Homo sapiens: one gene and its partner. The protein of the gene in region 1 purifies or fractionates together with the protein of each later gene. This does not show direct contact. Each region holds a gene or a part of one and is shown in the gene's direction. Other genes may lie near its edges.

Region 1 (3,855 bases):
TTAATTTTTCACTGTGGCATCTTCTTTTAAATGAGCTTAATCTGACTTCCAGATCTGCTAGAGAAGTCCCGAGTTACTTTTCAGCTAAAGGCTGAAAGAAGCTACCACATATTTTATCAAATCCTGTCCAATAAGAAACCAGAGCTCATTGGTAAGACACATCTTTGATTTATTTCTACCAAAGAATAACAGCCCTTCTAAGAAGCCTCTCTGAAATGTTTTTGATGACCAAAGCAATGCTGTCTATATACTGTTCTTTTCCATGTGTTCAGAAATGCTTCTGATCACCACCAACCCATATGACTTCGCATTTGTCAGCCAAGGGGAAATTACTGTGCCCAGCATTGATGACCAGGAAGAGCTGATGGCCACAGATGTAAGTAATAGGTACAAAGTAGTAAAAAGTAAATTCATTTTCCAGTGTACAACACTCTCCTCTATTAGGGTGGAAAGCAGTGGCAGAAAGACTATAAATAGGTAATACAACCCTTTGGGCTTTCTTACTTTTGGAAAAAAATTGTAGGATATTTCAATACCCTCCCCCTACATGTGTTAAAAAGCTTTCACTGCCTGTAATAAATGTTGGGTCTTTAGTATTCCTTAGCTAGTAGGCTCCTTTCATTCTATCTTTCTTATTAGTCATTTTTGGTTGATATTTATGCTCCAATATTAATGTTTCTCTGCTATTTTATGCCACACCTCACACCCAAGATTCTGGGAAGGAGCTGCAATATTATTACAACTAAACATGGAACTCCCACTGTTCTTCTACAGTCACATGTAAACATAAGCCTTATTTTGAATAAACCTCTGTGGGCCAATGATATATCCCTCTCTACTCCCTAAGCAGCATTAGAAGAAGTGGGTTGTCTACTTCAAAAACACTCATTTTGGGGACTCCATAAGCCTTTATATTTATTTTTGAAACAACGCACTCTCTCCCCACCATCACCTCTTTTTTAAGGATTATTGCTTTTTGGCTTACTTTCTTTATATGTAAACTTTATGTATATTTCATGCTTTCTTTTGATTTCTGAATAATCTTCCTTATTTTTAACTTTAATATCAGTGGGACTATCCCAATACCCCCAAGTTAGAGTTGACAGTGCTTGCAAAACTGCTTTTTCTATTAAAATATTATTTTCAAGAAGTCAATAATTCATTTGTGTGGCTTTATATTATAAATATCAGCTTTAACTCTCTATAACTTATTATTATCTTTGTATGTCCAAAAGTGATAGGGAGTTAAGAAACACACCCTGGTCTGCGAGGTTAAAAAAATGTAGCAGTCTTGCTCTAAGACTTCCGTAATAATGTCTAGTTTCTGTAAATAGGTAGAGTTAGTGAGCTGGAAGTGGAAGTCAATAATCTGGGGAAAGAGTCTTAGGTAAGAATGGTAAATAAACATATTTTCCTCTGCCTGCTCTGAATCCTGCCCCCATTTATAAGCCTTTTCAAAGCCTATGTGGGCAACTAAAAAGGTAATCAAAATTCGATAGAGAAAAAAGACACAGAAATATTATACTAAATGGCAAAATTCCTTCTTTTCATAAATGTCTCTTCTCTGCATGAGAAATAAATAACTAGGTAAAGTTTGCTACCCCAGGCATCTCGTGGTCGCTGAGCTGTGGCTTGCTATCAGAGAGGCATGTGGAGAAAGACTCACAACCATTGCTGTTCTCCTCATACCCTCTTTCCAACTTTATCACTCATGCCCATTAGCAGGGGAAGGTAGACTGGGATTATGCATTAGGATAGGACAAATAGGAGAAGAAGGAGCAACAGAGAGACTCGTGAGACTGGAGAAAAGAAACAAAAATAGCCAAAAGACCAAGAGGAGCATGTGCCTGAGAAGCAAAGGGGGGCTGGGGTGGAGAAAAGGGGCAAAGCACTGGCCTTGGCATCAAAAGTCATGGCTCTTAGTCCTGGTTCAGTGAGTGTGGACAAGTCACATCATATGCTGTGACCAAATGGACTCATGACTCAAATGGAAAGACTGATGCATACCTCTTCGTGTTGCCATGTGGATCAAAAGGTAAAGCATATGAGTACCTTTTGAAGATGGCAAAGTGCTAGTCAAATATAAGGCAAGGCGTGATGAGAAAAAAGTGGGAGACAGCCCCGGTGTTCTGAGGGATTCTTCCATGGTGCTAATTGGGGATGAGCAAATTCAACTCTTTTGACAGAGTGCTGTGGACATCCTGGGTTTCACTGCTGATGAAAAGGTGGCCATTTACAAGCTCACTGGAGCCGTGATGCATTATGGGAACATGAAATTCAAGCAAAAGCAAAGGGAAGAGCAGGCAGAGCCAGATGGCACGGAAGGTACCACCCCCTGTTGGTATCTTCCACTTGACAAAGCTGACATAGTGAACTTTTCAGAGGCAGGGACCGTGTTTTTACTTTCTCTGACCTAGCTCGTGAAGGGCAAAAGTATTACGAGAAGGAAATTACACACTGCCTGACGTTTTACATTATTTAGCAGATTTGTGATTTCTGCTCATTCCATTATTCATTGGCTTTTCATAAGCTCATATTTGCTATTTGACTAAAACATATTTTATTTCAGGATAATCTGTGTGCCCACAGGCACTGAAAGAAACAGAGATCTGAATATTTCTGTCACTACTCCTCTAGGTTAGGGTTTCTCAAATTATTTTTATCTGTGGTCTACTTTTGCCAGGTTAAATATCACAGACAGCATCGATTCCCCAACCTCCAATTTATCATCACAAGAAATGACTAAAATTAGTGCAAGTGGTGGCAATGCTTTTGAGGCAATATGAACAAATGAAAAGGTTTCAATGACATTTGCACATCTTACTTTTTGAGTGAAACCTTTTTTCTTTGTCATCATCATTTACATTTTAAATTGTGTAAGCCATGGTCAGTTTCACCATTCTCACCTTGTTCACACAGTTGCTGACAAAGCTGCTTATCTGACAAGTCTGAACTCTGCTGACCTGCTCAAATCTCTCTGCTATCCCAGAGTCAAGGTCGGCAATGAGTTCGTAACCAAAGGCCAGACTGTGCAGCAGGTAAACATGACTTAAATTGTCTGATTTATTTGAACCGCAAGTGACTCAGGAGTTCATCACTGTTTTCAATTTAAAAAACTAAACTATCACTTCTGTTGAAGGTGTACAATGCAGTGGGTGCTCTGGCCAAAGCCATCTACGAGAAGATGTTCCTGTGGATGGTCACCCGCATCAACCAGCAGCTGGACACCAAGCAGCCCAGGCAGTACTTCATCGGGGTCTTGGACATTGCTGGCTTTGAGATCTTTGATGTGAGTAGTGAACTGACAGAAAATTAGCCAGTGCAAATCCTCTTGTTAGAGCATACAAAATCACATTTACAAAATGTACCTTACAAAATATACAAATGTAATTCCTACTGAAAGGAGTCTTTGAAAAGATATGAAAAGTAAATAGGTATAAATAGGAAAAGAGAAAATTCTATTCTTTTGAGTCTAGAAGTCTCAAAAGTTGATCCCTGAGAGGTTAAAATAGTCAAAATCTATCCTGGATCCAAGCAGATGAGCATGAGAACACCTTTTTAAAATTACTCTAAGGAAATATTTCAGAGTCCTCATTTAACAGTATTTTGCCTAGTATGCATGATCTCATGCAGTTACTTGGAAAATAAGTATTCAAAGAATCAATTCTACTTTGTTTAGAACTATATAATAGGAAAACAATCTGAAGGTTTATAATTTAATAAACCAAAATGCCTTAAATTCAGAAGAAAATACTAATAGATACTCTGTAGATAGAATACTTGTTATGCGTAATTTCCTATATTTATCTTGTTCTGTAGTTCAACAGCCTGGAGCAGCTGTGCATCAACTTCACC
Region 2 (3,500 bases), on another chromosome or scaffold:
TGAAACACCCATGTTAAGAAGATGAAAGGCAAGCTACAGAGTGAGAGAAAGTATTTGCAAACCACATATCCAACAAGGACCAGTACCTAGACTAGAGGAAGAACACTCAACAGCAAGGAAACAAACCGTCCAGTTAGGAAATGAGCAGAACTGAAAAGACGTTTCACCAGGAGAATGGACAAATGACAGGTAAGCACACGAAAAGATGACAAACGCCATCAGCCGCCAGGGAAGCCCACAGCCAGACATCACTGCGCACCTATCAGAATGGCTGACATTAAAAATAGCGCCAGCATGAAGTACCGGTGAGGATGCAGGGAAGGACACTGGATCACTTACGCATGGCTGGGGAGACTGGAGAATGCCACAGGTGTTCTGGAAAACACTTCAGCAGTTTCTTAACGAACTCAACATGCAACGACCAGAGGACTGAGCACTTGCACTCATGGCGGTCATATCAGAGTAATGAAGACTTCTGTTCACACAAAAACCTGTATGTGTCTGTTCATAGCAGTGTTATTCACAAAGGCCAGAAACTCAAACCGCCCAGGTGCCCTGCAGTGGGTGAATGCACAGGCTGGGGTGCCCCCATGCTGAGATACCATGCTGCAGTGAGAAGGAATCCATTATTAATACCTGCAGCAGGGCCCAGCACGGTGTCTCACGCCTGTGATCCCAGCAGTTTGGGAGGCCGAGGTGGGTGGATCAGCTGAGGTCGGGAGTTCGAGACCAGCCTGGCCAACATGACGAAACCCTGTCTCTGCTAAAAAAAACAAAACTTAGCCAGGTGTGGTGATGCATGCCTGTAATCCCAGCTACTTGGGAGGCTGAGGCTCAAGAATCACTTGAACCTGGGAGTCGGAGGTTGCAGTGAGCCAAGATCCCACCACTGTACTCCAGCCTGGGCAACAGAGTGAGATCCCGTCTTAAAAAAAAAATAATAGTAATACCTGCTTCAACCTGGATGAGCCTCAAGTGGATTATGCCGAGTGAAAAAAGCCACTCCCACATGATCCCCTGCTGTGCCACTCATTCATATAACACTCCTGAAATACAGAAATGGAGAAAGAGAATAGAAATTATCAAAGTTATAGAAATGGAGAAAGACTAATGGTTACCATGGAGTTGGGCTAATGTGCGGAAGTGGGTGTGTCTGCAAAGGGCACCCGGTGGGGTCCTAGTGCTGGCTGAATTGTCCTGTCTCTTTCCTGTATCAGTGTTAACCTCCTAGTCGTGATACTATCATTTGGCAAGATGTTAGCCTTGGGGAGAGCCGGGTACGGGGCACACAGGGTGGATCTGTATCATTCCGTACAACTACATAGGAGCCTACCATTATCTCAGAAGACAATGTTTAATTTTTCTTTAAGCACCAGTAATAATAATGGATATAAATGAAATATACCAGGATGTGAATGGAGGGTATTATGGTGAGATTTAGTTTTGTTCTTTTTCTTTGCTTTACTATTTGTATTTTATATTATTTTCTACCTTGAGAATATACTACTTTTGTGGTCAGGAGAAAAAGACAAGTTATTTTAACCAACTGAAATGTTTAAGAAGTTAAATGTGCATCAGCGCAGCCCTTGAAGGCAGGAACACAAGGCCCCGAGAGGTGGCGCCTCACCCAGGTTGAGCGGATCACGAGTCCTGACTCTGGGTCACACATGCCTTCTCCTTCCCAGGATTAGCACAGGAAACACTTCCCTCCGTGGAAGCAGCTCAGACTTGAGCGCTTCCCCTCATTCCCCGCCCCTCCCTGAGAGGCTGCCTTTAAACAGAAAGAACCACAACCAGCGAGCAGCCTCCTGGGTCCTGGGCTTTGGAGAGCCTCAGTCTTCTAACCTGTCAAATGGGGAGAACGGAGCACCCTGCAGCCTCCTTCCTAGGGACCCCATAACAAATTATCTCATGCCGGGTGGCCTGAACCCACACAAGTCTCCGAAGGAGAATCCATTTGCACCTCCTCCAGCTTCCAGGGCTCCCGGCACTCCTTGGCCCCTGACAGAGTCACTCCTGCCTTTGCCTTCACCTCCACGCAGCCTCTGTCCGTGCCCAAATCTCCCTCTCCTTTCTCTTACACAGATGCCTGTCACTGGATTTAGGGCCCACCCTAATCCAGTATGACCTCATCTTAGCTAATGACACCTGTAAAGACCCTATTTCCAAATGAGGTCACATTCTGAGGTTCCCGGTAGACGTGAATTTTGGGGAGACACTGACCAGCTCAATTTACCACATCTGTGGAGAAAGTTAAGTGAACAGAATTTACGTAAAAGTTTTCTATCAACTTACAACGTTTGGCTGGTATAAACTGAGAAGATGGCTAAGTGGTTAGTAATCACGCTGTTTCCTCCATCATCACTAGGAAACGGTTTCCTCGTGCCCCTGGTGCCGGCGAGGGAGGAAGAGGGAAGGGGAGGAGAGGAGGAAGGGAGGGAGGGAGAATGTGATCATGAGCCATAAATCGAAGAAGTTCCTGTTTCCTTCACTCAATCCCCCACCTCTGCGAGGGAAATGCGGTTATTGGAAGGTGGAAGGAGATGGTGGAGCGGCCTCTCTGGGTGACTCGGTGCCACGCGGGGATGGCAGTTGGTGGGAGCTCCTCTCTGCACTCACCCTGCCCCATCTCAGCGTCACTCCTGGTACCGCATGGTCTGAGAAAGAGAAAATTAAGAACCGCAGCTTCCCAGAAAGGAAAATCCTGCTTGGTTTCCAGGCAGGCGGCTTAGGCACTTCCAGATGTGTTCCTCTCCCCTGCCGAAACCCTCCTCGCAGTGGGAGGCCCCTCACCTTCCTGGCTCCATCCCTAGCACGGGCCTCTGTGGGTCTCCCCCGGGCCCTGACTGCCCCCCAGCTGCTCTCTGATGACACCCTTGGGCCTCTCCCTCTCCCTCTCTGCCGCTGGGTGATTGTTCTGAAATATCCCTTGGCCACAGCCCCTAGTTAAACCAGCTGCCTTGGTCAGCCCCATACTCCAGGAAGAATCTCCAGGGCAGAACCAGGCCCGGTCTCCTGTGGGTCCCCAGAGCCCACTCATGTCAAGGAAGGGAGGGCGGCAATGAATGAATGAGTGAGTGAGTGAGTGAGTGAATGAACCACTCTGGCCCCTCAGCTTCAAGGCCCACTCCTGAGTGGCCACATGGTGTTTCTCTGCAGGGTGATGTCCTGACTACCAAGTACCAGGTAGACCTTGGGGACGGCTTCAAGGCCATGTACGTGAACCTTACACTGACCGGGGAGCCCATCCGGCACCGCTACGAGAGCCCCGGCATCTACCGCGTGTCCGTCAGGGCAGAGAACACGGCAGGCCACGATGAGGCGGTGCTCTTTGTCCAGGTCAACTGTAAGTTTATTGCCCCTTTGAGGCCAAAGGTCACTCCCTTTGAGAGAGAGAACCTGGCTTTGGGGGAAACACAGGGAAGCCCCCGGGATTGCTCTAGGCCCCTGGTACTCAGGACGGTGAACCCGAGGGCAGGGAGGCAGGGAGGCTGGGCTCA

Evidence for each region. The genes of interacting proteins can lie anywhere in the genome.
Region 2: the proteins of MYH4 (region 1) and SORCS2 purify together in Homo sapiens (affinity purification with mass spectrometry; one large-scale study listed by BioGRID and IntAct). This does not show direct contact.

Annotation. Positions count from the first base shown.
Region 1 is NC_000017.11:10,459,386-10,463,240, reverse strand, and holds part of MYH4 (myosin-4), read left to right. Parts: intron 1-52; coding exon 53-151; intron 152-272; coding exon 273-376; intron 377-2,186; coding exon 2,187-2,325; intron 2,326-2,919; coding exon 2,920-3,038; intron 3,039-3,139; coding exon 3,140-3,289; intron 3,290-3,819; coding exon 3,820-3,855. UniProt on the Homo sapiens protein: Muscle contraction.
Region 2 is NC_000004.12:7,720,538-7,724,037, forward strand, and holds part of SORCS2 (VPS10 domain-containing receptor SorCS2), read left to right. Parts: intron 1-3,159; coding exon 3,160-3,346; intron 3,347-3,500. UniProt on the Homo sapiens protein: The heterodimer formed by NGFR and SORCS2 functions as receptor for the precursor forms of NGF (proNGF) and BDNF (proBDNF). ProNGF and proBDNF binding both promote axon growth cone collapse (in vitro).